Linked DNA regions of Homo sapiens. The protein of the gene in region 2 purifies or fractionates together with the protein of the main gene of each other region. This does not show direct contact. Each region holds a gene or a part of one and is shown on either strand. Other genes may lie near its edges.

Region 1 (3,500 bases), on a different chromosome or scaffold from region 2:
AGCCTTTTTTGTTTTGTTTTTGAGATGGGGTATTACTCCGTCACCCAGGCTGGAGTGCAGTGGCACCATCAAATCTCACTACAGCCCTATCTGCTGGGCTCAAGTGATTCTACCACCTGACCCACCGTAGTAGGTAGGACTATAAGCAAGCACTACCACACCCTGCTGATTTTTTTATTCTTCTGTAGATAGGTCTCGTTATGTTGCCCAGACTGGTCTCGTTATGTTGCCCAGACTGGTCTTAAACTCCTGACCTCAAGTTATCCTTCCGTCTTGGCCTCCCAAAGCACTAGGGTTACAGGCATGAGCCACCACACCCCACCCTGACCCTTTGTTTATACACAGATTTTTCATCACAGAAAACTGACTCATTCTAGATACAAATTTGTTGCTTCTTATACTATTTTAAGGCATTAAGGACATCAGCTTTATTTTTCATGTATAAAGTTGAGGAGGTTTACATGTTTTAATGTGAAGAATATCCACAATTGAGAATATTTGTTTAGTCGGCAATTAATTACTGTGTATTTATGATGTACAATTACGCTAAGGGCATATAAGACATGGGTGTCTATCCTCCAGGAATTTAAGTCTAATAAGGGAGATATGTCAGAGACAGAGTGAAATAATAATAGCAGGCAATATGTGATTATATATGATTAAATGGCAACTTTAAGAAACTAGAAAACAGAAGATATCTTCCGTTCATGTCATCATTGTTTACCCGCATGCAGATCAAAGTAAAACCTAAAAATGACTATATTCAAAGCTTGTGTTTGAAGTCAATCATCTACAAAGTGAGGAAAGTACACTCAAAGCCATATATGCAGTGACCCACTAGGTAATGTGAGAAAATGTTAAAGCTTCTATTATAATAATTTTTTATCTTTTTACTTAAAAAGGAAAAATAAAATTTACAAATTTGAGTTTTTAAAGCTTTACCAAATTTATTTTTTCTTTTTAGCACACCTCTGCTGGCAGGAAAGCTTTACTAATTTTTAACGATGGCAGTCTCATTTATTGATATGCCAAGCAGGTCACTCCTTATACTCTGTTTACAAGGTAACCTAAGGGCAGAGAAAGCTTCCACAAACAGAGAGTTGACAGTAGGACCTTCAGCATTTTACAATATATATTAGATTATTTTCAAATTATATTGTTAAATTTTAACTAAATTACCTCTCCCAAAATGAGCAAGTAGCTTAAGCTGATTTCTACAAAGAAGCCATGAATTGAGGTAATAATAATAATAATAATAAGCACAAGCAAATAAGAAAATAGCAGATCAGGAACTCTTTATCAGACACATGAAGTATAAACAAAGATGATCTAATCCAATCTGACAAGTCAGTACCCCCTTGGAAAAAATTCAAAATTGTCAAGAGGCTAAATTGAGGCAGATTTATAACCACCATCTTTAATTCAAATCTTGCCATGAACATATACTGAGCTATTAGTTAATGAATATAATTTAGAAATACATGTCAAATCCTACAATAACATGACCCACGACAATATGAAATTGGCCGCCAGCTCCTATCCCCATGTTCAAACAGAAGAGAGCTGAAATTTTTATTTTCTGTGAAGTTTTCTGTGAAGCAAGGTCAGGAAAAGGAGGGCAAGGACACAACAGAGAAGAAGACAGGTAACCTTGAGTCTCAAAAGATAGGGAAGAAGACACATTGAGTCCCTGCTTCCACAGTATTCTCTCAGCCTAATCTCTCCTGATTGCACTGATGACACGGGCCAAATAACCAAATTCCTGGTACTGCCACATTGACTGTATGATAGTGGTGAATCATCTACTCTATTTTTGGCTCATTTCTACGTTGGTAAAGTGAAAGGGACATATCAATACACCCATAAAGCTCCTTCTAAGTCTCATGTTGCATGGTCCTAAGGTGAGCTATTACAATAGTCACTATTGACTTGTGAACTGGTAAAGAATTTACTGTATGAACAAACACACTACATGGATAAAGAAGCTTAACTGCTACATGGCTGCCTACAATGTTAAGGTAACAGAACAGACTAAGCAAATTCTCATGATGCCAGCCAACTCCCAAGAGTTTTCATCAATTATTCATTCAGGGAAATATAAAGAACACCTATACAAATCACAGAAGTAGGTAATCAGGGATAAAAGATGAATAAGACACAGTTCCTTCCATAATACATTCATTCTAGACATTTACTGAATGCCTACTACGTGCTGGGCACTATTGTAGACACAGCAACATGGCAATGAACAACAGACAAGGTCCTTGGTTTTCAAGGAACTTATATTCTAGTTAGGGATATACTCCCTTCCCCATTTTCAGAGCAGAGTAAAATACAGACTACTCCTCAGACCTTGACCTAAAGAATGGGTGGACTCCAAGTGGCAGCAAACAATCAAACAAGATCGTATCATGACTGGACCACCTGACTAGCAATGAAAATGCACTGCATCAGGAGCCCTGACACCTGGGCTCTGCTAACTTGCCATGAACCTTTGGAAAGTAAGTTATTATTTTTGCGTCTTGAATTCATGGGAAAAGTTAAAGGGCTAGACTAGATAAATGGTTCTCAAACCTTCCAAATGTCATGGACCTTTTTGAAAATGTTACCAAAATTAAGGCCTCTCTACTTAAGAGAAATGCACAACTGCACATGTAAACTAACTTTTCAAGATGTTCACTAATTTCAAGATGTTCACTAACGCCCTGAAGCTTATCCTATATGCCAGTTTAAGAATCTCTCAACTAGGTAATTCACTGAAAAGCCTTCCAGCTCCAAGTATTCTATGATTCTATTCCATTTTACTTCCTCTCGTCTTCCTAGGATTCCAGTCTACAACCACCTCAAGATACTAGAATAAAATGGTTTTTTTGTTGTTTTTGTTTTAATTAAGATACAAAGGGAAAAAAAATTTAAAGAGGGAAAAAAGAGAGATACCAAGAAAGAAATATGTAGCTAGCTCACTGTCCTCCACAGAAGAGTGAAAAGCAGAACAAGATATTATGAAAATTATCTAACAGACATATGAATACATGTGTGGTAATTTTTACAACATAGCCTCAAAATTATTTGCTACTTCTCCATCAAGAGGTAAAGGTCTATGTCCCTTCCTCTTGACTCTGAGCTTTGTGACTACCTCACAAATAATATATTTCAGAAGTGATGCTGTGCCAGTTTGCAGGCTCAGGCCCTAGAAACTGGCAGCTTCTTCTTCCTGGCTCTTTCATTAGATGGTCACTAATGGAACTCAGCCACTATACTGTGCAGAGGCCCAGGTCACGTGTAGGTGTCTCTACTGAAAGTTAACTGCCAGATGTAAGTGAAGACACTCATAGATACTGGCCCCAGCTCTCAATTCATCTCCAGCTTATGAGTCTTTGCAGCTGAGGCTCTAGACATGGTGGAACAGAAACAAACCAACCCTGCTGCAGTCTCTCCAAGTCCCTGACACACAGAGTCCATGAGCATGACAAAGCCATGTTTTATACCACTATGTTTTG
Region 2 (3,500 bases):
GAGATCGTGCCAAGTGTGCCACTGTGCTCTAGCCTGGGCTACAGAGTGATACTTCATCTCAAAAAAAAAAAGAAAAGATATTATACTTTGGACAGGAGCTGTGTTCCCATCTGGGACTTCCTGGAGAAGATACAGTACAAAATAGTTACAGGTACTCACCAGGTTTTCATCAGAAATGAGGGAGCTCTAATTGTAGGAATTTCTTCAGAATACATTTCCAAAGCAAATGGAAAAGAAAAGGAGTCCAGAAATGCTGATTACTCGTTGTACATTAAATCTTTATAACTGCGTCAAGATTATTCACCTTGATATCCTATACACTAACCCCAGGAGTTTAGGTCTTATTCCCAGGGTCTTATGGGATGTGCTGGGGTTTCTGGAAGCCTGGCTAATTGCTATTATAGCAAGTCTATAGTCACTCACTAGGAGACTTATTTGCTGCATATTTAGAGATGTGATATATTCTGAATGTGAAACAAAAGGATTCATAAATCTCTGAGCCTCGCAAGGACCCATGAGAAAAAAAGCATTTATTCATATCAAATATATAAGCAAATTAATATATAAGCTGGAAAGGTAGCACTTCAAATCTTATGTCAGACATTCTTCACAACTGAAAGAATTCCTAGTGATTTGTAATTTTTCTGCATATACTTTATAAAAAATCTGTAGTCCAGACCCTCACCTCAGCCATTGAACAGATAGTGTCTTGCAGGTCTAAAACACATGTCATTTTCTGTTTTTAGACTACATCATTGTATTTGGTTTAGATGAGGCCACGTTGTGATACAAACAAGCCAGAAATTTCAGACGTTTGACACAAACATTTATATATACAGAAAAATGAGAAGGTGGTAGGGAGTTAGGTAATTTTGTTTTAAATGAAAAAGGGACAGAAGGAAAGCTATATAAATGGTTGGAGTGTATAGACAAAGTAGAAGAAAAATATGTGGTCATGAATGAATTAAAATATGGTTATTAATGAATGTTGGGATGCTGGATAAACAAATTAAAAATATGGGGTGCTTGGATAAACATCTTCATCTTTCAAAACAAGAAGTCGTTTTATCATGCCTCCAGAAAAGAGCAGCATAAGCACATGATTTAGAAACATCATGATAATTATCAAAGGAAACATCTAAAATTGTGCAAGGATTATCTCTGGGAAATGAGAGTGGGAGGAGGGAACTTTTGGGCACAGTGAGGTAGGAGACCTCATATTTCATTATATACCTTATTAAATTATTTTAAAACTATGTGCATGTATTACTTTGGCAAAGAAAAGGATTTAAAAAACCCAGAAGATATATTTGGTAATTTTGGCATGTAAGTTGCCTGTCGTCATGTTTTAAAATGTGATGGCAAGCCTGGTAGGGTACTCAGTTGCAGAGAGTAGAAGAATTGCTGCTCCATCCTCCACCCTCTTTCTCCTTCCACTTGAAATACTTTCTTAGAAAGTATTCATTTGGAGCAAGAGGAAGGGAGTAACTAGAATCTTACGAAATTAGAGGTTGTTTGAGGCACAAAGTCTGATGTGGAAGATTTGGAGGCTGGGGAGTAATAAGGAAATTAAGGAGCTTAGGAAGAGGAGTGGAAAATAGGTGCCCAACCGGTAGGCAGTTAGAAGAAACAGAACTCCCCAAACCACAGCTTTCATAACATTTCATGAGTCAGTTTTCACACAATAGATGCTTATTTAGTTGTAATAGTGGAAACTCTATGTAATAGTGGAAATTTCTATATCCTGTACCCAGGGGTGTTCCCAGGGACAGGCATCATTGCATAACCCTATGCTCCAGACTCAGTCTCATGGCTTCTTGTCTTCACAGGCATTTTCTTTTTGCACTTTCTTTTCGTTTAAAACCATCAACACCACACGACAACAAAGCATTAGGATATATGATCATCTTTCACTCACGTAGGAGAACAAGAAATGGTTTTAAATGGAATCTGGAAGACTTAGACAATGCTAAGGAAAAATTTAATGATGGAAATATCGACAAATATTCAACATCATTTAAAAACAAAGTAGCTTCTCTTATTTCACATAGCTTAGTTTGGGATAGAAATAGAACTAATGTTTACAATGATTCTTACATTTAGCATTAATCAGAAACGAGGGTTTGTTAAGTGCCCTTGCTGGGTCCCAACCCCCAGAGATTCCGATTCAGCAAGTCTGGGATGCGGCTTGAGAATTTGCATTTCTAACAAGTTTCTAGGTGATGCTGATGTCAATAGTCTGTGTACCGTTTGAGAACCGCTGGATTGATTCTTTGACAGTTTTTGAAGTCCGCTGCTCACCATATCACTTCATCCTCTTATAAACTTTCACTATGTGATTGCCTAAGAGCCCCTGCTTGTTGGCTGCTCCACATTTTCACACAGTTGTACTATTTCTTTCTGAAATGACATTGTTTGAGGGACAGTGGGTGGAACGTGTGAGCTCCTCACTGAAGGCTGCCTCCAGAATTCCCTGAATGGACTGCCTTGCTTTCTTCCTAAAATCTTTCCCCAAGAGGGCATAAAGGAAGGGATTAAAGCAACTATTGGCAGATGCTAGAGCAATGCATACATGATCCCAGGACATCAGAGTTTTCCCCAAGGGAGTTTCTGGGTCAGTAAGCAATGACAGGACTCCAAAAATGTGGTATGGAGTCCAGCAGACAAGAAAGACAGCCACCACCACCACGGCCACTCGAAAGGTTTTGCTCTGAGACTTGGCGAAGCGGCCCCTTTGCATTCGGAAGACAATGAAGCTGTAACAGGCTATCATGATAACAGAGGGCAGCAGGAAACCCACCACTAGCCTAGTGATCGTTATTGCCACGAGGGGTGTTGGCACTTGATCGTCATCTGTGAATTGGCCTAAATTGTAATAATCCTGGAAACCTTGTGGTAGCTCAGACTCGTAGAAGGAATTGCTAGAAGCGCTAGGGAACAGCTTTAAATGAGTAGAGAGAAAAGCATCAGAGTTATCCAGTGGGCTGGTTTCGTGATCTTCAATAGGAAACCCACTGGGGATTTTAGGTGAGACCACATCAGCAGGTTTAAATACATTAGAATACAGATTTTGACTTGTTAACCTAGCAGAACCCCTAGGGAGTGAATCTGCAGAAGGTCTTTGAAATGTTTGAGGTTGGAAGACAGTGGGGACTGTCCAAGGATGATCATTTGTTTGGAAAGAGGAAGGATCTAACCTATCATTCATTTCTCCAGGCGGCTGAACAATGTTTTCAAGAGACCTGTTTTCTAGTGGATCTCCATAAAAGTCTGGATAATCTAATGAGCTGGAGAGACCAAATTTGTAGCCACATCTATTATGGTTGTCTGTAGTGAAGATTTCCCGGTACACGAACACAGGAATGCACATCACAAAAGCCACCACCCAGATACATCCACAGATAGAGCAGGCCATCCCTACATTGCGATGATTCTGACACCAGATTGGCTTGAATACCACAAGACAGCGATCCAGGCTAATGGCAGTAAGCAGGAAGACA
Region 3 (4,106 bases), about 87 Mb from region 2:
GAATGTTCAGAAACACAACGTCTAGAATTGCTGAAAATCCACACAAAGATAGAGGCTTTGTCATTTGGATGAAGGGGAAAGAACTATGGGAGGCAGACAGAAAATAAAGCTTTGTTTACCCTAATCAGGTAGAAACAAACAAAATAATTGTAATTGGGTGCAGACAAGCAAAAAAAAAAAAAAAAAAAAAACCTCAACAATCTCAACTCCTCTGCTTCTCAGGTAACAGAGGTAAAACCACCAGGACATGACAATGTCTACGCCTCTTTAAAATGGGTAAAAGGTTTACCAGCAGATACAAGGTTGAAAGCGACTCACTTAGTGGCCAAATTGAACACGCTGAGAACACTGCCTTTACCTATAATAACTGATCTATTAACTTGGGAATCTACACTATTTTCACATGCAAAGGCGAAGTCCTCGCACTGCTGGAGAGATGAGCGAACGCCCTTCACACATCGCATTTCACCTGGTGCAGAGCCCCCAGCACAGTCCCCCTTGGAAGGGAGATCCCGAGAAATCCCGGGTTTCCAAACAGCCCCTCTGGGCAGGAAAAGACGAGAAAGCCGGCAGCGAATCCCATTAGCTCCGCGCTTGCCGAGGTGCTCGGCAAAGGTACGGGGCACACAACTCGCCCACCCCGGCGAAGAAAGTTGCTCGCGAGCCCAAGCCTAGCAGCGCTCGCCACAAACTTTCCCGCGGCAGCGCGAGCGCCGTCACTTACCGGCTGCAGAAGTCATGATTCCCCGGTGCAGCTCGCTTCCCCGCTCGGCCCCTCAATCCATCTTCCCCTTTCAGTCCATTGTTCCCACAGTTCGGGTAGGAGAGAAAAGCCCCCGCAGCGCCCACATTCCGTCCCGCCGCCCCGCGGCGCAGCCTGAGCGCCACACAAAGGACGCGGCCGACTCTAGCGACCCTGCGGCGCTCCCGGGCGCGAGCCGCCGGGGTCGGGCGGGCGAGCACTAGCACCGCCCCGCAGAGCGGCAGGCTGACAGCCAGGCGCGGGCACGAGCAGTGCTCTCTTCGGCTCCGCTGGCGCGTGCCCTTCTCGGGCTCCAAAAATCAGCAGTGCTCCGGGCGCCCCCTGCTAGTCGCGGCCGTAAAAGGCAGACAAAAGCCCTAGCCTCCTCCAATCGGAGGGCTCGAGCTTCAGCTCGCTCCCGCCTCTCTCGCTTACACGCTCACTCTCTTCTCCAATAAGCGGGCTCGAAAAGGGGGCGTGAGCGGCGAGGCATATTGGGAATTGTAGTTTTCTGGACCCACGGGACGGGCAGGAGCTGGAGCTCCGTGCCGCCTGTACTCCCGCCTTCATTTCCCATCGTGCTGAGGCGGGTGGCATGGCGGAGAAGGATGACACCGGAGTTTGACGAAGAGGTGGTTTTTGAGGTAAGAGGAAAATGGCGGTGGGTGTGGATTGCCTTTGTTTGAGAAGGACGAGACGGAAATCGAGGAAGCAAGGCGTTCCCGGGGCGAGGGATCGGGTGACGCGCTCCAGCTGGCCTCGACCACCGAACCCCAGCGATTTCAGGGCCTAGAGTCCGTCGTCGCCTGACAGGTGTAGCCAGAGGCGCCCTGGCCGTGGCCGGCCTCTATCTCGGGCCCGCCCAGAATTCCCAGACGGTGCCCGGTTGCCAGGCTCTGGGCTGGAGCGGTGTCTCTTCCTTCCTGGGAATGGATGTGCGGCGGGGGGGACTGCGCCCGGCTGGGGCGGGGCCGAATCGTGCCTTTTAGATAGTCACAACTTAGCCTCCTCCTTTTCCATCCGCGATTTTTTTGGGTCAGTATCCAGAGTGCTTCAGGTCACTGTTCACCGTCAAGGCGTGGCCCTCGGAATGAAGGCAGCAGGTGCCCGTTTTCTAACACGGTTTAAAGTCTATTTGTGGGACCTACTGTGGGTAGTTAGGGCCAGGGCATCTCAGCATCTAGATTCGATTCTTTTGTCCTTTGCTGTTGCGCTAGGTGTAGCCAGTTCTTCTGACTCGGGGCTCTAGATGTGAGTGCTTTTGTGTGGGACTATTTTAAGACGTTCTCTGCCATCTTGAATGAAAAAAATCGGGCGAGTGTTTTTGATGCCATTTTTTTCCATCAGACACAGGTCAAAACTCGCACCCCTGTACGTATGTGTATTGCATGTATACGCTTTACTTTCATTTATCCAACTAGATTTTAAGAAAATTTAAAAATGAAGTGGCCCATGCCATACAGCGAGAGAGCGAGGCACAGACAGGACAGAATGCTAAATGTTGAAATATGTACAAACTGTCATTGAAGGATTAATTTCTGTTCTTGCGGCCTCCCAGAGGCTACACCCAGTACGCGATATCCGAGGTGAATCTTTAACTATGAATTGGATTAGAAAAACCGGCAGGAGAAAATGTATTACAGGGAAAGAGAACTGATTATGCCAAGCTTGGGAAGTGTGAAAGTACCTGGTGTGCATTTTTAGGGGGCGGGGTGTGGAGGGTGGCTATGTAAAGTGGCTTGATGTGGCTGCAATGAAGAAGCAGTGGAAAATGTGGCCATTTTACCGAAGTGAAGAGTCTAGATATGAGGCGTTCATTAGGGAAGACAAGGGCCTGAGATGAAATGAGAGACGTAATGGAATAATGGCTTGGACAGACACTTGTAAGTTAAAATCGAGGCAATGTTTATAGATTGAATGTGGTAGCTGAAGGAGAGAGAAATATTTTCTAGAGTAAGGGTAACTGATGGGTGTATTTTTTTTACCCATTATTTTTGATTTCTGAATATAATAGTAATATATGCTCAAGGAACATTTTATTGTAGAAAATAAGCCCCCAAGTTAAAATCATCCATTATCCCACCACCCAAAGATGGTAACTATTAACAGTACGGTATGTGTTCTTATAGACTTTATTTCTATGTAAATGTGTGTTTATGTGTGTGTAATTTTTTAGCCTCTATATTAAGACACAATGTGTGTGTGATATTTTTTAAAACAAAAGGTATACCACGTAGAATTTTGTATATATTTTTCACTTGACTTTATCGTGAATCTTTTCCCATTCATCATTCTCTGAAAACATTAATATTATAATATCCCCTCACGTGTATCATAATATAACCTTTTTTTAAAAAAATACCATTGTAATCAACAGTGATATAAGCCTATTTTTAACTACAACTCTGATTTTCCTCAGAATAATTTTTAGAAGTAGAACTAGTGGGTGAAAGAATATGAACATTTAAGACTTACGCAGAAAGGTTATACCAATTCCGGTTTCCATTAAGAATAAGAGAGTATTGGTTTCACCAAATCCTCAACAACAGCCTTAACAGTTTCCTTTAATCTTTGCTAATTTGATAGGCAAAAATAACATTCCATTGTTTTAATTTACATTTTATGCATTTATACATTTATTAGCTATTTTTATTTCTTTGAACATTTCTCTTCATATTTGTTGCTCATTTTCTTATTAGATGCTAGCTTTAAAAAAATTGACTTGCGTGAGTTCTTCATATATTACTAAGCCTTTGTCATACTTGCAGAAAAATTTCCAGTTTGCTGTTTGTTTGCTCTTTGATATACACAATTTTTATTGCAGTATAATTTACATAAGGACAGGGCACAGATCACAAGTGTGTGGATGGTTATATTTTCACATGTTGAGCACACCCATGTAACCAGCACCCAGATCAAGAAACGGGACAGATGGGGCATGGTGGCTCACACCTGTAATCTCAGCACTTTGGGAGGCTGAGGCAGATGGATCCCTTGAACCCAGGAGTTTGAGATTAGCCTGGACAACATGGTGAAACCCTATCTCTACAAAAAAGACAAAAATTATTTGGGCGTGGTGGCACATGCCTATAGTCCCAGCTACTCGGGAGGCTGAGGTGGGAGAATCACTTGAGCCTGGGTAGGTCAAGGCTGCAGTGAGCCATGATCGCACCGCTGTACTCCAGCCTGGATGACAGAGCCAGACTCTGCCCCAAAAAAATAAAAAATGAAAAAAGAAACAACATCACCAGCACACCAGAAGCTCCCTCCTGGTCCTTTCCATCACTACTCCCTACCCCAAAATGATCACTATTTAAACATAATAACCTAGATTAATTTTGTCTATTTTTATTGTTTAGACACT
Region 4 (3,500 bases), on a different chromosome or scaffold from region 2:
CCCCCTTGTCTAGTTATCAGGTGCCCTGTGGCCCCAACCTGGGATAAGAAAATCACCCCGTTCTGGTGGGCAGGCGAATGCCGCTGCTTCCCTGGCAGAGTTGGGTGCCACCTCTCTGGGCATTGCCTGTGCTGCTGACCGTCATGGTGCTCACCTCCTTGTCTCCTCCACCATCTGATCGCTCTCACTGCTTGAGGGTAGGAGTGCTTGGCACACACGTTGATTGTTCTTCAGTTGCTTGATGATGTGACTTCCCCTGAGAGCCCCCATGGCTTCTCTTGGCTGATGTCCAACAGCAGAGTCACGCGACAAGTGACGCTTCGGACCAGGCTTGTTAATGGGCTGCAGGGGGCCGAGGACAGAGCAGAGGCACCTGAACTGCCCAGGGAAGGGGTTGGGGGTTCTCCTTCCAAAATGGCCTAGTGTGTGGACTATTATTAAAAGTGCCTCTGAGAGGCCAAGAAAGCCTATGATTCAGTACACCCTGAATGAAAAAGAAGAAAAGTATGAGATACTTTAGACTTTTCTATCTCAAGTTGTTAAAGGAAAATATTCAGCATTTAAGTAGTATAAGTTTCAATTATAAGGAAGCTCATTTTCCAGAAAACTCGACTCCTTAGAGAACTGGGACATTACTAGGCTAGTTCATGGGACACAAACTGGGCCTCACTGTGACCCACACCCATTTTTGTGTGGCGTGCATGCTATCGGCCACGTGCAGCTTTTACAATAGCTGAGGCAGCTGCCCACCATACAACCTGGGCAATTCCCTGTGGCTGCCTGGTTCAGCTCTGCTCCCTGCAGGCAGCTTCTGCCCTGGCCCCTCCTCACGGCCAGGACCTGCCCTTAGACGGGCCAGCGGGCATCCTGGTGCCACAGCTCCTTGTTCCCCCCAGGTCCTGGCTCAGCTCAGCTCCCAGCCGCTTGAGCACGCCTGCTGACCTGGGTTCCTGGGTCCCTCCCTTGTGTTCAGCAGCTCCTTGCGGCTGAGCCCCAGTCCCTGAGCGGGAGCTCCGTGACATGAGACACCCAGGGAAGAGCCACCGCGTTCTTTCGCAGTGCATTTATGTGGGGCCGTGAGTCCCCTGTTCTCACCCAGGGACTGCAAGGAGCGCCATGAGGCTCTGGAGTAACTGCCCTGCAAGCTGCTCGGTGACACACACACCCTGTGGGTGGATGTGGATGAGTACATGGTTCCCACTAAGGATCTGCTTAGTGGAAGGACATGAGCCTGTTTGTTTACCTTTCACACGGTCTAACAATCACTTAGAAGAGTCACCCTGGACACCCAGTCCTGAGTGTGCTGTCACCTCTGAGAGCCACACCCAGCAGCCCTCCAGCCCTTTGTCATTCATGATGCCTTGAATCACGGCCCTCAGAGCCCTCCAGTGGCAAACAGGGTGGTAGGTGCGGGTGGGCTGCCCGAGGTGAACTGGCTGTGGAGGCCGGGAAGGCGGGGCATGTGCCGGGCCGGGCTGGGCGAGCTCCTCCTGACTGCGGGCCAGGTCTCCACCGAGTGTCCCCTGCGGGCAGCTTCGGCGCAGCATCCACTCCATTCTCCCGCCGACCTATCGTGGAAGGCACTGCTGCCCCATTAGACAGACTGGGGCCTGGGCTCAGGGATGCAGGTGCCTGCCCACAGAGGGTGGATCCTAGCCCAGGCTGGCCTGGCGCCAGGGTTCATGCTCCACGCCCTGCACTCAGTGACAGCTGCAGCGGCCCCACCACTCCCAGTGTCCCTGTGGGAGGGGCGGCCAGATGCAGCTTTGAGAAGACAGCAGCTGCCTACAAAGTGCTTTCTGGAAGGAGCTGCAGACCCCAGTTCTGCCGAGCCCCGGTGGCACCTGTGTATCTCTGCGATTCCCTTGGAAGCAGGGCCTCGGGAGGGACCTGCCACCGAGCCCCGTGTGGCGTCTGAGGGTCCTCTTTCCTGTCCCCCAGGATGCCTTTCAGGAGGAGTACTACAGGACGGGCACCTTCCCAGAGACGCCCATGGTGCCCCCCCGGCGGCCCTGGACCCTCGTGAACTGGCTGTTTTGGGCCTCGCTGGTGCTCTACCCTTTCTTCCAGTTCCTGGTCAGCATGATCAGGAGCGGGTCTTCCCTGACGCTGGCCAGCTTCATCCTCGTCTTCTTTGTGGGTGAGTGGAGGGCAAGGGGCTGGTGGGTGCTGACAGCACCACCCTGGGAGAGGTGGCATCAGGGCTGGGACGAAGGCCATCTGTATAGGCAGTTGTGCCGTGGATGAGGAGCAGGCTCAGCTTGCAATCACAGGGAAAGATTAGACTTCAGGATGAGTGCGAGGCCCTCGAATACCAGGCCTGGGACCCCCTCCGCAGCCTGGACGGTCCAGCCTCCCACCTGGGGCTGGATTCCACACGTTCCCTGTTGGGTGGTGATGCAGCTGCCACTTCACTCCCCGACAGCTGGGAGTGCTCCCTCCCTGTCCTCCGCAGACAGCTCTGCTCATTGGCATCATTTCCTGCTTCTGAAGAAAGCCCTGTGCTGGAGCCTGGCGGGGACGGATGGGCAGCTCCCTGCCTTCCTCTGGGGGCGCCTGTGGCTTCTCCTTTGCTGCAGGTGGATGACACTGAGTGGAGACACTCGGCGACAGAGCTTTTCATGGGTCTGCGCTGGCTCCAGGTGACCGGTATTCTCGGGCTACTGCTGCTTCTTGGTGGCAAGCCCCTGTGCACCCTGCTCCTTGCCTCTGGCGGGGCAGCCTGTCGTGCCTGCTTCCTGCCCTGTGAACAGCAGGTCCGTGCTTCCTGGAGCCAAGGAAGACTTTGGGGTTTCCCTGTGAAAGGCCCTGTCTCCCCAAGCCTGGCGTCCTCTGAGGCTTTGGAGAGCCCGGGAGAGACGGCACATTGTCCAAGCACACAGAGATCACGTGCTTCTTCCAAATGGACAGGACTCAGTTATTTTCTGTCAAACACAAAGATGCAGTATGCTCACTATAAAAGGCCCAAGCAATAGACAAGCGCAGAAAATGGAAAGTGTGTCAGGAGACCATTCCCATTGAGCCCACTTCCCAGATAATCGTTAATGACAATTTGATGCACGTGGTGGTTCCAGTCTCAAGCATATGTGCATCTATAAACCCGTATCAGTGGAGTTTCTTCAGCTCGCCTTTTCACCTAATGAATCATAACCACCAAAACAGGTCACAGCACATAAACCTAGCTCATTCATTCTGACTGAGCCAACCAATGCTGCAGCATATGGGTGCAGTAGACAAGCTGGCTCCTGTTCCTCAAATAGACCCTACTATACAGTCTTTTGAAAGATTAAGATGTATTTTAGTGTTAAAAATTAAAATATTAAAACAACACCCACACCGTGTAAGGGAAAAAAATAAGAGGTTGGAGAAGAAAGCACCTCATCTCCTTAAGGCAGGTCCAGGGGCACCCCCATGCCCCGCCATGCTGAGGCTGGCCAAGGGTCCGGGGCAGCTGCAGGTGCCAGGGCCCCTGGTAGGGCGGGGGCAAGCTCAACCCTTCT
Region 5 (3,500 bases), on a different chromosome or scaffold from region 2:
TTCATCTTCATTGCCACATTAATTGATTTGGGCTAATTCAAGAATTTTTAACAACTCAGAAAATGTCATGGAGTAAGAGTTCTCACAAACTATTCTGATACTACTTAATTAGAAGAATAAATTTAAAATTTTGGACAAGAGCCGGTTTTCTTATATCATCTTCACTCACTTAACTGAACAACTTAAAATATGACCGTCCTTAAAGAAACTAATACATCTTTAAACTTTGAAAAAACGTATCTATACCCCCTTCCTAACAGACAGTTAAAATTAAAAACTTACAAAAGCAGCATGCTTTCCGCGAAGTCCTCTTGTACACTGTTGTCTCCATGGCTTCCAAATAATAAAGCCCAAAAGGTACAAAACAAACATAGATGTTTTTGCAAAGGTGCTGAAGAATGGTTTGTTGTACTGGGTAAAAACATACTGTAGAGGAAAAAGTTACACAGACAACTCTGAGATGACCTTAAACCTTATTACTCATCTCCAAAATAAAGTCACTACATGATTTTTAACTCTTCAGAAGTTCACTTGGAAAGAAAAAGTCAAAGCGATTACAAAAGTATTTTAGATCCATTTCTGAAGACTGTATCGGCCTTGCACACAGAAGGGCACCACCAAACAAAGCAGCAACAGCTGCTAAAAGAAGTTGGGTTTACCATTCGTTGGGACCTACCACGAAACAGTGCCTACACTAGGAGCTAAAGAAAAGTAAGACAGGGCCAGGCGCGGAGGCCCAAGCCAATAATCCCAGCACGTGGGGAGACCAAGACAGGAAGATTGCTTGAGCCCAGAATTTCAAGACCTGCCTGGGCAACATGGCAAAACTCCGTCTCTGCAGCAAAATAGAAAAATTAGCCAGGGTGGTGGCGTGCACCCTCAGTCCCAGCTACTTGGGAGGCTGAAGCGGGAGGATCCCCTGAGTTCACAAAGGTTGAGGCTGCAGTGAGCCATGGTCAAGCCACTGCACTCCAGCCTGGGCAACAGAGCAAAGACCCTATCTCATAAAGAAAAACAAAAGAGAAGGAAGGGAAGTTATCCTGCCCTTGGGGAGCTTAACATCTAATAGAGGAGACATATATATGAAGAGAATACAGCATCATGTGCCAAGTAACAAGAGACGGGTTCAGGATGCCACGGAGCACCAAAAGGAGACTGACAAATTTCAAGGTTATGGACGTTTCCCAAGGGAGACTGTTTTTTTGTTTGTTTGTTTGTTTTTAGTGTATTGTGAATATAAACTCACAATTTTTTATATCCTAAGAAAATTCCTAGTTATATCCACTAAAAAGGCATAGAAAAAAATGACAATCCAGGAGGAAAGTGCAACTCTAGGACGTAAATGGTGGTCCACGCCATTTTACACTAAAAGAAACAATGGCTCTGGCCAGGCACAGTGGCTCACACCTATAATCCCAGCACTTTGGGAGGCCGAGGCGGGTGGATCACTTGAAGTCAGGAGTTTAAGCCCAGCCTGGCCAACATGGCGAAACCCTGTCTCTACAAAAAATACAAAAATTTGCAGTACATGGGGGCACCTGCCTGTAATCCCAGGTACTCTGGAGGCTGAGGCAGGAGAATCACTTGAACCCAGGAGTCAGAGGTTATAGTGAGCCAAGATCATGCCACTGCACCATTCCATACTGGACAACAGCGTGAGACTCTGTCCCCAAAAAAGAAACAATGGCTCCTATAATAAATGGCCAAATCCAGGTATGGAGCAGAAAATGTACAAGATGGGCCCAGGGCATCTTGTGGTGGAAAGAAAATGTTAAAGATTAATAAGATGTCAGGCACAGTGGCTCACGCCTGTAATCCCAACACTTTGGAAGGCCAAGGCGGGTGGATCACTTGAGGTCAGGAGTTCAAGACCAGCCTGGCCAACACAGTGAAACCCAGTCTGTACTAAAAATACAAAAATTAGCTGGGCGTGGTGGCAGGTGCCTATAATCCCAGCTACTCAGAAGGCTGAGGCAGGAGAATTGCTTGAACCTGGGAGGCGGAGATTGCAGTGAGCCGAGATAGTGCCATTGCACTCCAGCCTGGGTGACAAGAGCAAAACTCTGTCCCATCTCAAAAAAAAAAAAAAAAGATTAATAAGGCCATATTAAAAAGACTTAAAGAATTCCAGCTAATAAATACAGAGGGAATAACTCAAAAAAAAATCACCATTTTGCAACCCCTAATGAAATACTTTATCTAGACAACTTAAACGTGGATATTCAACTATTACCTAAAAGTTGGTGAGGAATTTTATAGTACTTAAATTGGCATCATCTAAAGTGAGACTTGCAGTCATTATGTATGTCATGCTGGAATGTTACAGGAAGTACTCAGTACCCCAAAGTATTCTTTCCTGAAAACTAAACCTAAATCAAGACTTTACACCTAACTACCACTTTACAAGAAATAAGAGAAAAATAACAAGTTAAATGATACCCCAAGGAAACAATCAGCCAAATCCAGAATGTGTGATACATCCAATAGGAAAAATGACCCAGTTTCTCCAACAAATTTATGGTATTAAAAAAAAGGAGGGAAGATACAGTTAAGGAGTAAAAGATACCACAAATGCAATGCGTGATCTTCATTTAGATCCTAACAAACTTAATGGGAAAAAAAAGTGCTTGACACCACCGGAGAAAACTGGACTGGAGAAAACTGAACATAGACTGGATATCAGATGATCTTAAGGAATTACAGTTAATTGTGTTAACTATGTTAATGGCATAGTGATTATGTTTAAGAAAATTAAAAGTCCTTTTCAGTTTAAAGTAAATAGGAAAGAAATCGTGGGTGAAATGGCATGTGACATATGCTTTAAAATATGCTTTAAAATGCTCCAGGAAAAAAAGTTTTGAGGAGAGGTTGATAAGGTTGGCAAATTTGGTTAAGTGCTAAAGCTAAGTAACGAATACATGGAGACTCATTATAATATTCTACTTTGTATATGTTAGAAAATAACCATAATAAAAAGACTGATTTTCTTTTTGAAATACACACTTTATCTCCAAAGTTTGTTTTTCTTTTTTTTTTTTTTTTTTTTTTTTTTTGCTAAGGAGTTTCACTCTTGTTGCCCAAGCTGGAGTGCAATGGCATGATCTCAGCTCACTGCAACCTCTGCCTCCCAGGTTCAAGCGATTCTCCTGCCTCAGCCTCCAGAGTAACTGGGATTACAGGCACCCACCACCACACCCAGCTAATTTTTGTATTTAGTAGAGACTGAGTTTCACCATGTTGGCCAGGCTGGTCTCGAACTCCTGACTTCAGGTGATCTGCCCACCTGATCTTCCCAAAGTGTTGGGATTTCAGGCGTGAGCCACTGCGCCTGGCCCTATCTCCAAAGTTTAATGAGCATAACTGGTTGAAGAAGTAGAGACATTACATACATTCTTGAATAATGAGATTGTAAAACATCCTCTTACTAAAATATTTTACTTTAAAAAAATTAAGGTAAGTTGAGTTTTTTCCTCCAGTTTCATCAAAGTACAACTGACAAA
Region 6 (3,500 bases), on a different chromosome or scaffold from region 2:
ACATAATGGTGTGCTCCTGTAGTCCCAGCTACTCGGGAGGCCGAGGTGGGAGGGCTGCTTGAACCCAGGAGTCAGAGGTTGCAGTGAGCTGAGATGGTGCACTGCACACCAGCCTGGGCAACAGAGTAAGACTCTGTCTCCAAAAAAAAGAAAGAAAGAAAGAAAGATTACAACATATTCAGAGGAACACCAGAGAAAGAGATGTATAGAACAAGGTATGGAGAAAGAAGCGCAGAGCTTCCATGCCTTTTCTGGATGCGCCATCCTCTCCAGGAACCTCCATGTGTTCAGCTATCCAGAAGTTCTCCAAACCCTGTCCCCTTTTGGGGTTTTTTTTATTTATTTATTTTTGAGGCAGGGTCTCACTCTGTCATCCAGGCTGGAGTCCAGGGGTGCAATCTCGGCTCACTGCAACCTCCGCCTCCTGGGTTCAAGCGATCCTCCTGCCTCAGCCTTCTGAGTAGCTGGGCTTACAGGCACACACCACCATGACCGGCTAATTTTTATATTTTTGGTAGAGACGGGTTTTCACTATGTTACTCAGGCTGGTGTCGAACTCCTGGGCTCAAGTGATCTGTCTGCCTTGGCCTCCCAAAGTGCTGGGATTACAGGCGTGAGCCACTGCGCCCAGCCTGTTTTATTTTTGAGACAGGGTCTTGCTCTGTCACCCAGGCTAGAATGCAGTGGTGCCATCACAGTTCACTGCAGCCTCAATCTCCTTGGCTCAAGCCAACCTCCTGCCTCAGCCTCCCAAGTAGCTGGGACTAGAGGCACATGCCACCTTACCTAGCTAATTTTTCTATTAGAGATAGGGTTTTGCCATATTACCCAGCCTGGTCTCAAACTTCTGGGCTCAAGCAATCCACCCACCTAGGCTCCCCAAAGTGCTGGGATTACAGATGTGAGCCACACCCAGCCCTTTTGGGTTTTTAATGAAGACCTCATAACATAGACGTGATTGATTCAATCGTGACCACTGGTGAACAAGTTAACTTTCAGTCTCTTTTCCTCAAAGTTGAGGGTGAGGCTAAATCCCAACCCTCTAATCCAGGTTTTGTCTTTCTTAGGCTCCCATCCTGAAGCTACCTAAGGGCAGCTAGCCATTGATCATTAGCATTAAAAAAAAAAAAACAAAAAAAAAAACACTATTACTTTGAAGATTCCAAGGATTTCAAGAGTTGTATACCAGGAAATGGTGATGAAGACCAACTATTTACTCACTAGCACAATACCATGATTTCATTTATACAATTTTCTAGGAAAAAACAATACTGGTCTATAGTGACAGAAAGCAAATCAGTAGTTGCTGGACACCAGCCATGGGGATTACTGTCAGCACAAGACAATTTTTTGGAGTTCATGGAAGTGCACTGTATCTTGATTGTGCTGGTGGTTACACAGATCTATATATTTACTAGTCAAAACTCAGCAAACCGTACACTTAAAATCTGTCCATTTTACTGTATATAATATACACTTCAATAAAGCTATTTTTAAATTTTTTTAAGCTTTCACTTGTAGTCAGTTACATATACATACCTCTAATTGTTGCTGTTCCATTTTCGTCAATAAAAATTTGGAGTATATATTGCTTTTTTCAAGCAAATGTTGAAGTCTACGGTACCGAATTTCTGTCGACTCTCTATCCCAAGACATGCGAGCCTATCCAAAGAGAAAATTTCCATAATTATGAACACTTTCTGACATACCTTAATTTTTTTGGCATAAAGTTTAATAAAAATGGCTAAAATAACATTTTTTAAACCAAACACTTTCAAACCAAAAACTGGAACAAATAACTGTTAAAAAAAAAATAGTTTTTGGGTTTAACAGGCAATCTGATAGATGCAATTCGTATATCAAAATATTATAATTTCAAATATTGAACACATGGTTTCTGGCACTACTGAGTTGGAAGGTCCATTTAAAAAACAATTGAAGGCCGGGTGCGGTGACTCACACCTGTAATCCCAGCACTTTGGGAGGCCAAAGCAGGCGGATCACCTGAGGTCGGGGGTTCGAGACCAGCCGGACCAACATGGAGAAACCCCATCTCTACTAAAAATACAAAATTAGCCAGGCGTGGTGGTGCATGCCTGTAATCCCAGCTACTTGGGAGGCTGAGGCAGGAGAATCGCTTGAACCCGGGGGAGGCAGAGGCTGCAGTGAGCCGAGATCATGCCACTGCACTCCAAACAAGAGCAAAACTCCGTACCAAAAAAAAAAAAAAAAAAATTGGGGCCAGGCACGGTGGCTCACGCCTGTAATCCCAGCACTTTGGGAGGCCGAGGAGGGTGGATCACCTGAGGTCAGGAGTTTGAGACCATCCTGGCCAAAATGGTGAAACCCCATCTCTACTAAAACTATAAAAATTAGCAGGACGTGGTGGCGCATGCCTGTAGTCCCAGCTACTCAGGAGGCTGAGGCAGGAGAATTGCTTAAACCCGGGAAGCGGAGGTTGCAGTGAGCTGAGATGGCACCACTGCACTCCAGCCTGGGTGACAGAGTGAGACTCCGTCCGGAAAAAAAAAAAAAGGTATGTGTAATTTGCTAAAACATTGATGTTGTGGTTCCGTGTTATTATATTACCTTGTTATGTACAGATAAGGAAAATTTTTGATTAATTTTGCACTTGACCCTCATAAAAAGTGATTGCCTAGGTGACACTAGAGAATTCTAAGACAAGTTTTCAGAGTCTCTCCCTATTTGAGATTAATAAACAAGTTGATTTGGATAGAACATTTTAGAAAAATACTACCAACACAATTCATCCTAACAATCAAAACAGACATCTAGCCAAGATTAACACCCCCACCCCGTTTTTTAAGGCATGGTCTCATGCTGTAATTGGTGCAATTGTGGCTTACTGCAGCCTCCAAATCCCGGGCTCAAACCACCCTCCCACCTCAGCCTCCCAAGTAGCTGGGACTCTAGGCAGATGCCACCATGCCCTGTTAATTTTTTGTATTTTTTTTTTTTGTAAAGACAGGGTTTCACCATATTGCTAAGGCAGGTCTCCAACTCCTAAACTCAAGAGATTCGTCTGCCTTGTCCTCCCAAAGTACTGGGATTACAGGCATGTGCCACCATGCCCAACCAAGATTACCAATTCTGTAACATGAATCCAGCCTAGTAAATCAACAAACATGTACTGCAACAATTATATAAATTATGTAACTGGTAGAAGACAGAAAGTCTGATTTATACTACAGATGAGACATTAGTGTAATATCTGAAAACAACAAGTATTAAAGACATATACATAGCAGTAAACTGTACAGTACTATCTAAATCCTGAAAAATTGTAAGAATTACTAAAACTGGAGAAGTCAGATTTCAGGAAATAGATGACATCTGAGGGGTCTGAAGGATGGATAAATGAGAGCAGAAAAACTCAAGTTTTGTCAATTACTGTAGAAGTTCCTGCTTTAAGCAACACTGGCCTCAGCAACAGCACTAAAAATCACACTTAAGTTAACTTTAGAATTAAAAAGATTCTA
Region 7 (3,431 bases), on a different chromosome or scaffold from region 2:
AAAAAAAATGGAAATGTAGATTTCCCACAGGTTGGTATTCTTGGTATTTATTTCATTTATCTCGTAGAATTTAAAAAAATAGTAAATGACAAAATTTTAAAATAACACAAGCCCAGCAAAGAATGCTGGATAACAAATGATTAATTCAGGAAAATCTTCCAAAGGATTTGTGAAAAAGAATACTCCTTTCTTTCCCCCATGAGTGAACTCTTGCCTTCTTTTTGAAGTTGACTATTGGAAAACCCAAAGATGCTTAGACAGGGCAGAATGAGAAATAGTTAATCCTCTGACAGGTGGGCTTCGATAACAGTTGTGAAATGTAACACATTTTTCTTTTCACTTATAGTTGGCAGAAGGGCCAGTGAAATTTGAAAGTTGACCTCATATTAATCATGGGTCATCACAGTGTCTTTACACTTGGAACATGTGCATTTCTTTGTCCATCAAAAGAAACAGAACAACCGAGAAAAGGCTAGAGAAGACCATCTTACATGATTTAAGGAATAAAAAGACTTCCCTATGAGAACAGTCTAAATTTTAGGACTTTAATTTGGAAAGATACAGAAGCATAAGTTCAGAGTATAAAATGTTGACTGTACAGATCTCCTAGAGTCCCCTTTACGCTGGATATTTTTATATTACCTGATTATTTTTTTCTTAATCTTTGATTATTCTTTATGAATCTCGATTTATTCATGATGTTCTCTCCAGTGTTAAGTTTGCATTTCTGACCTTTTCTATTGCTTGTTTCACTTTTAAGGAAATGACTTGAAGTTGTTCCACCCCCATGGTGCCATTTACCCTGAGAGAACTACAGAATAAAGCAACCATAAGTTTGCCCTTGGTGTTGATAACCAGTAGCTCTGGGAATAAACTATGCTTACCTGTTTTCTACAGCATATGGTCTGTCTAGCTTTCATTGCCTCTCTAGCTGTTTTGAAAATCCCAATTAGAAAGCCATGCCAGCTTACTAATTAAGAAAATAGGCCTTGGTGTCAAAGACTTCATCTTCAGATCTGATCTTATTTTGCTACTTAGGAGTTCTGATACTGGGCAAGTCACCTAGCCTGTGAGCTTCATTTGCTTATACAGTTGTTGGAATTAGATGTGGTGACATGCGAAAAGCACAAAGCCTGGCTCCTATCAAGCTTCTGCATCTATTTTTTTTTCTATTTTTCTCTCAATTATTGGAAGCTCATAGAAGCATTTTGGGATAGAATTTTAGTAGTTTGCAAGTATTTTTAAACATTTTATCATAGGTACACTTATAATTTTGATATGATCTCAGTATTAACCTGATAACTCCCAAATTGATATTTTCCTAGTTCAACTGAAATTAAAGGGAGAAATATGGGATTGTAGGAGTGCCTTGTCCTCAAATTGACTGTATTTCTGTTTTGAGAAAGATCTTGGTACTGATCACGTAGTCAACTTTCTAATGCAATGTTAAAGTTTATATATTTGTAAATGTTATTGTTATAAAAGCATAAAACCAGAAATTAAGTCTTAGATTTAGTTTCTACATCTTTTATTGGAAGATGACTGTAGATAAATATCTTTCTGTATATCATTTTAATAAATGAGAAAAAAGAGCTGTTGAATGAAAGATCATGAACATCAGTATTTATCTGAGGAACATCCTGCGGAGGAATCCCTTTCCCCATTTATTAAACACAAAATTGCCAGTGTTTCAAGTAGTTCTCTGATCGATAGACCAACAACTGAAATTAAATGCTTTTAGTCTCAAGTGCCCATTTTTATTAAAATGTAATTATCATGAACAGAAAAAGCAATACAAGGCGTGTGTTCTTAATAATTCTGCCATTCTCTTTTTGACATTTAAAGGAAGAGCCTAGGCTGGATGTCTTGATCAATAACGCAGGGATCTTCCAGTGCCCTTACATGAAGACTGAAGATGGGTTTGAGATGCAGTTCGGAGTGAACCATCTGGGGCACTTTCTACTCACCAATCTTCTCCTTGGACTCCTCAAAAGTTCAGCTCCCAGCAGGATTGTGGTAGTTTCTTCCAAACTTTATAAATACGGAGACATCAATTTTGATGACTTGAACAGTGAACAAAGCTATAATAAAAGCTTTTGTTATAGCCGGAGCAAACTGGCTAACATTCTTTTTACCAGGGAACTAGCCCGCCGCTTAGAAGGCACAAATGTCACCGTCAATGTGTTGCATCCTGGTATTGTACGGACAAATCTGGGGAGGCACATACACATTCCACTGTTGGTCAAACCACTCTTCAATTTGGTGTCATGGGCTTTTTTCAAAACTCCAGTAGAAGGTGCCCAGACTTCCATTTATTTGGCCTCTTCACCTGAGGTAGAAGGAGTGTCAGGAAGATACTTTGGGGATTGTAAAGAGGAAGAACTGTTGCCCAAAGCTATGGATGAATCTGTTGCAAGAAAACTCTGGGATATCAGTGAAGTGATGGTTGGCCTGCTAAAATAGGAACAAGGAGTAAAAGAGCTGTTTATAAAACTGCATATCAGTTATATCTGTGATCAGGAATGGTGTGGATTGAGAACTTGTTACTTGAAGAAAAAGAATTTTGATATTGGAATAGCCTGCTAAGAGGTACATGTGGGTATTTTGGAGTTACTGAAAAATTATTTTTGGGATAAGAGAATTTCAGCAAAGATGTTTTAAATATATATAGTAAGTATAATGAATAATAAGTACAATGAAAAATACAATTATATTGTAAAATTATAACTGGGCAAGCATGGATGACATATTAATATTTGTCAGAATTAAGTGACTCAAAGTGCTATCGAGAGGTTTTTCAAGTATCTTTGAGTTTCATGGCCAAAGTGTTAACTAGTTTTACTACAATGTTTGGTGTTTGTGTGGAAATTATCTGCCTGGTGTGTGCACACAAGTCTTACTTGGAATAAATTTACTGGTACAAATTCTTAACTGTGCATTTCTTTGGAGGCTTCACTGAATACAGTCCTTTATCATGTCACCATTAGCCTATGCTGATCTTGGTCTGCCCAGTCTCTTCTTGCCACGTATCTTGTACACTGCTCTGAGAGATAATATTCCTAAAACCCAAATCTATCACATTCCTGCTTAAAAAACAGTGGGTTTTGAGCCTTAAAAAAAAAAAAATTTGGCAGAATTCTTTCTTCAAAAGCGGTGTTTCACTGAAACGTAGAAGCTGGAGGGGGTAAAGCAGGTTATCGCAATGCTGCCAAGGTGGAGTCCCCCACGGCAATTCCTAAAGGGATTTCATAGAATATAGTGGTTTATAAACCACTTTTATTTAGACTAAAGATTAAACTGTTGAAGATAGAGTTGAGGCTCCATGAGACAGCACCATGCTTACCCTATACTCTCATACTCAGCACTGTTCAGTAGAACTTTGCAGTGAGGAAAGGAATACTCTGTGTTGTCTGATGTGATGGACTCTAGAA

The links.
Region 1: the proteins of C3AR1 (region 2) and ZDHHC13 purify together in Homo sapiens (affinity purification with mass spectrometry; 2 studies listed by BioGRID and IntAct, with this or other methods). This does not show direct contact.
Region 3: the proteins of C3AR1 (region 2) and VEZT purify together in Homo sapiens (affinity purification with mass spectrometry; 2 studies listed by BioGRID and IntAct, with this or other methods). This does not show direct contact.
Region 4: the proteins of C3AR1 (region 2) and AGPAT4 purify together in Homo sapiens (affinity purification with mass spectrometry; 2 studies listed by BioGRID and IntAct, with this or other methods). This does not show direct contact.
Region 5: the proteins of C3AR1 (region 2) and SLC35F5 purify together in Homo sapiens (affinity purification with mass spectrometry; 2 studies listed by BioGRID and IntAct, with this or other methods). This does not show direct contact.
Region 6: the proteins of C3AR1 (region 2) and HELLS purify together in Homo sapiens (affinity purification with mass spectrometry; 2 studies listed by BioGRID and IntAct, with this or other methods). This does not show direct contact.
Region 7: the proteins of C3AR1 (region 2) and RDH14 purify together in Homo sapiens (affinity purification with mass spectrometry; 2 studies listed by BioGRID and IntAct, with this or other methods). This does not show direct contact.

What each region holds. Positions count from the first base shown.
Region 1 is NC_000011.10:19,120,168-19,123,667, reverse strand, and holds part of ZDHHC13 (palmitoyltransferase ZDHHC13), read right to left. Parts: intron 1-3,500. UniProt on the Homo sapiens protein: Palmitoyltransferase that could catalyze the addition of palmitate onto various protein substrates. Palmitoyltransferase for HTT and GAD2. May play a role in Mg(2+) transport.
Region 2 is NC_000012.12:8,056,360-8,059,859, forward strand, and holds the end of C3AR1 (C3a anaphylatoxin chemotactic receptor), read right to left. Parts: coding exon 2,378-3,500; 3' UTR 485-2,377; downstream 1-484.
Region 3 is NC_000012.12:95,216,501-95,220,606, forward strand, and holds the start of VEZT (vezatin), read left to right. Parts: upstream 1-1,306; 5' UTR 1,307-1,350; coding exon 1,351-1,386; exon of another isoform or gene 1,387-1,845; intron 1,846-4,106. Other genes in the region: FGD6 (FYVE, RhoGEF and PH domain-containing protein 6), read right to left, coding at 725-740. UniProt on the Homo sapiens protein: Plays a pivotal role in the establishment of adherens junctions and their maintenance in adult life.
Region 4 is NC_000006.12:161,138,062-161,141,561, reverse strand, and holds part of AGPAT4 (1-acyl-sn-glycerol-3-phosphate acyltransferase delta), read left to right. Parts: exon of another isoform or gene 1-484; intron 485-1,095; exon of another isoform or gene 1,096-1,941; coding exon 1,942-2,140; intron 2,141-3,500. UniProt on the Homo sapiens protein: Converts 1-acyl-sn-glycerol-3-phosphate (lysophosphatidic acid or LPA) into 1,2-diacyl-sn-glycerol-3-phosphate (phosphatidic acid or PA) by incorporating an acyl moiety at the sn-2 position of the glycerol backbone.
Region 5 is NC_000002.12:113,750,143-113,753,642, forward strand, and holds part of SLC35F5 (solute carrier family 35 member F5), read right to left. Parts: intron 427-3,500; coding exon 283-426; intron 1-282.
Region 6 is NC_000010.11:94,552,288-94,555,787, reverse strand, and holds part of HELLS (lymphoid-specific helicase), read right to left. Parts: intron 1,663-3,500; coding exon 1,540-1,662; intron 1-1,539. UniProt on the Homo sapiens protein: Plays an essential role in normal development and survival. Involved in regulation of the expansion or survival of lymphoid cells. Required for de novo or maintenance DNA methylation. May control silencing of the imprinted CDKN1C gene through DNA methylation.
Region 7 is NC_000002.12:18,554,223-18,557,653, reverse strand, and holds the end of RDH14 (retinol dehydrogenase 14), read left to right. Parts: intron 1-1,845; coding exon 1,846-2,463; 3' UTR 2,464-2,931; downstream 2,932-3,431. Other genes in the region: NT5C1B-RDH14 protein, read left to right, coding at 1,846-2,463. UniProt on the Homo sapiens protein: Retinol dehydrogenase with a clear preference for NADP. Displays high activity towards 9-cis, 11-cis and all-trans-retinol. Shows a very weak activity towards 13-cis-retinol. Has no activity towards steroid.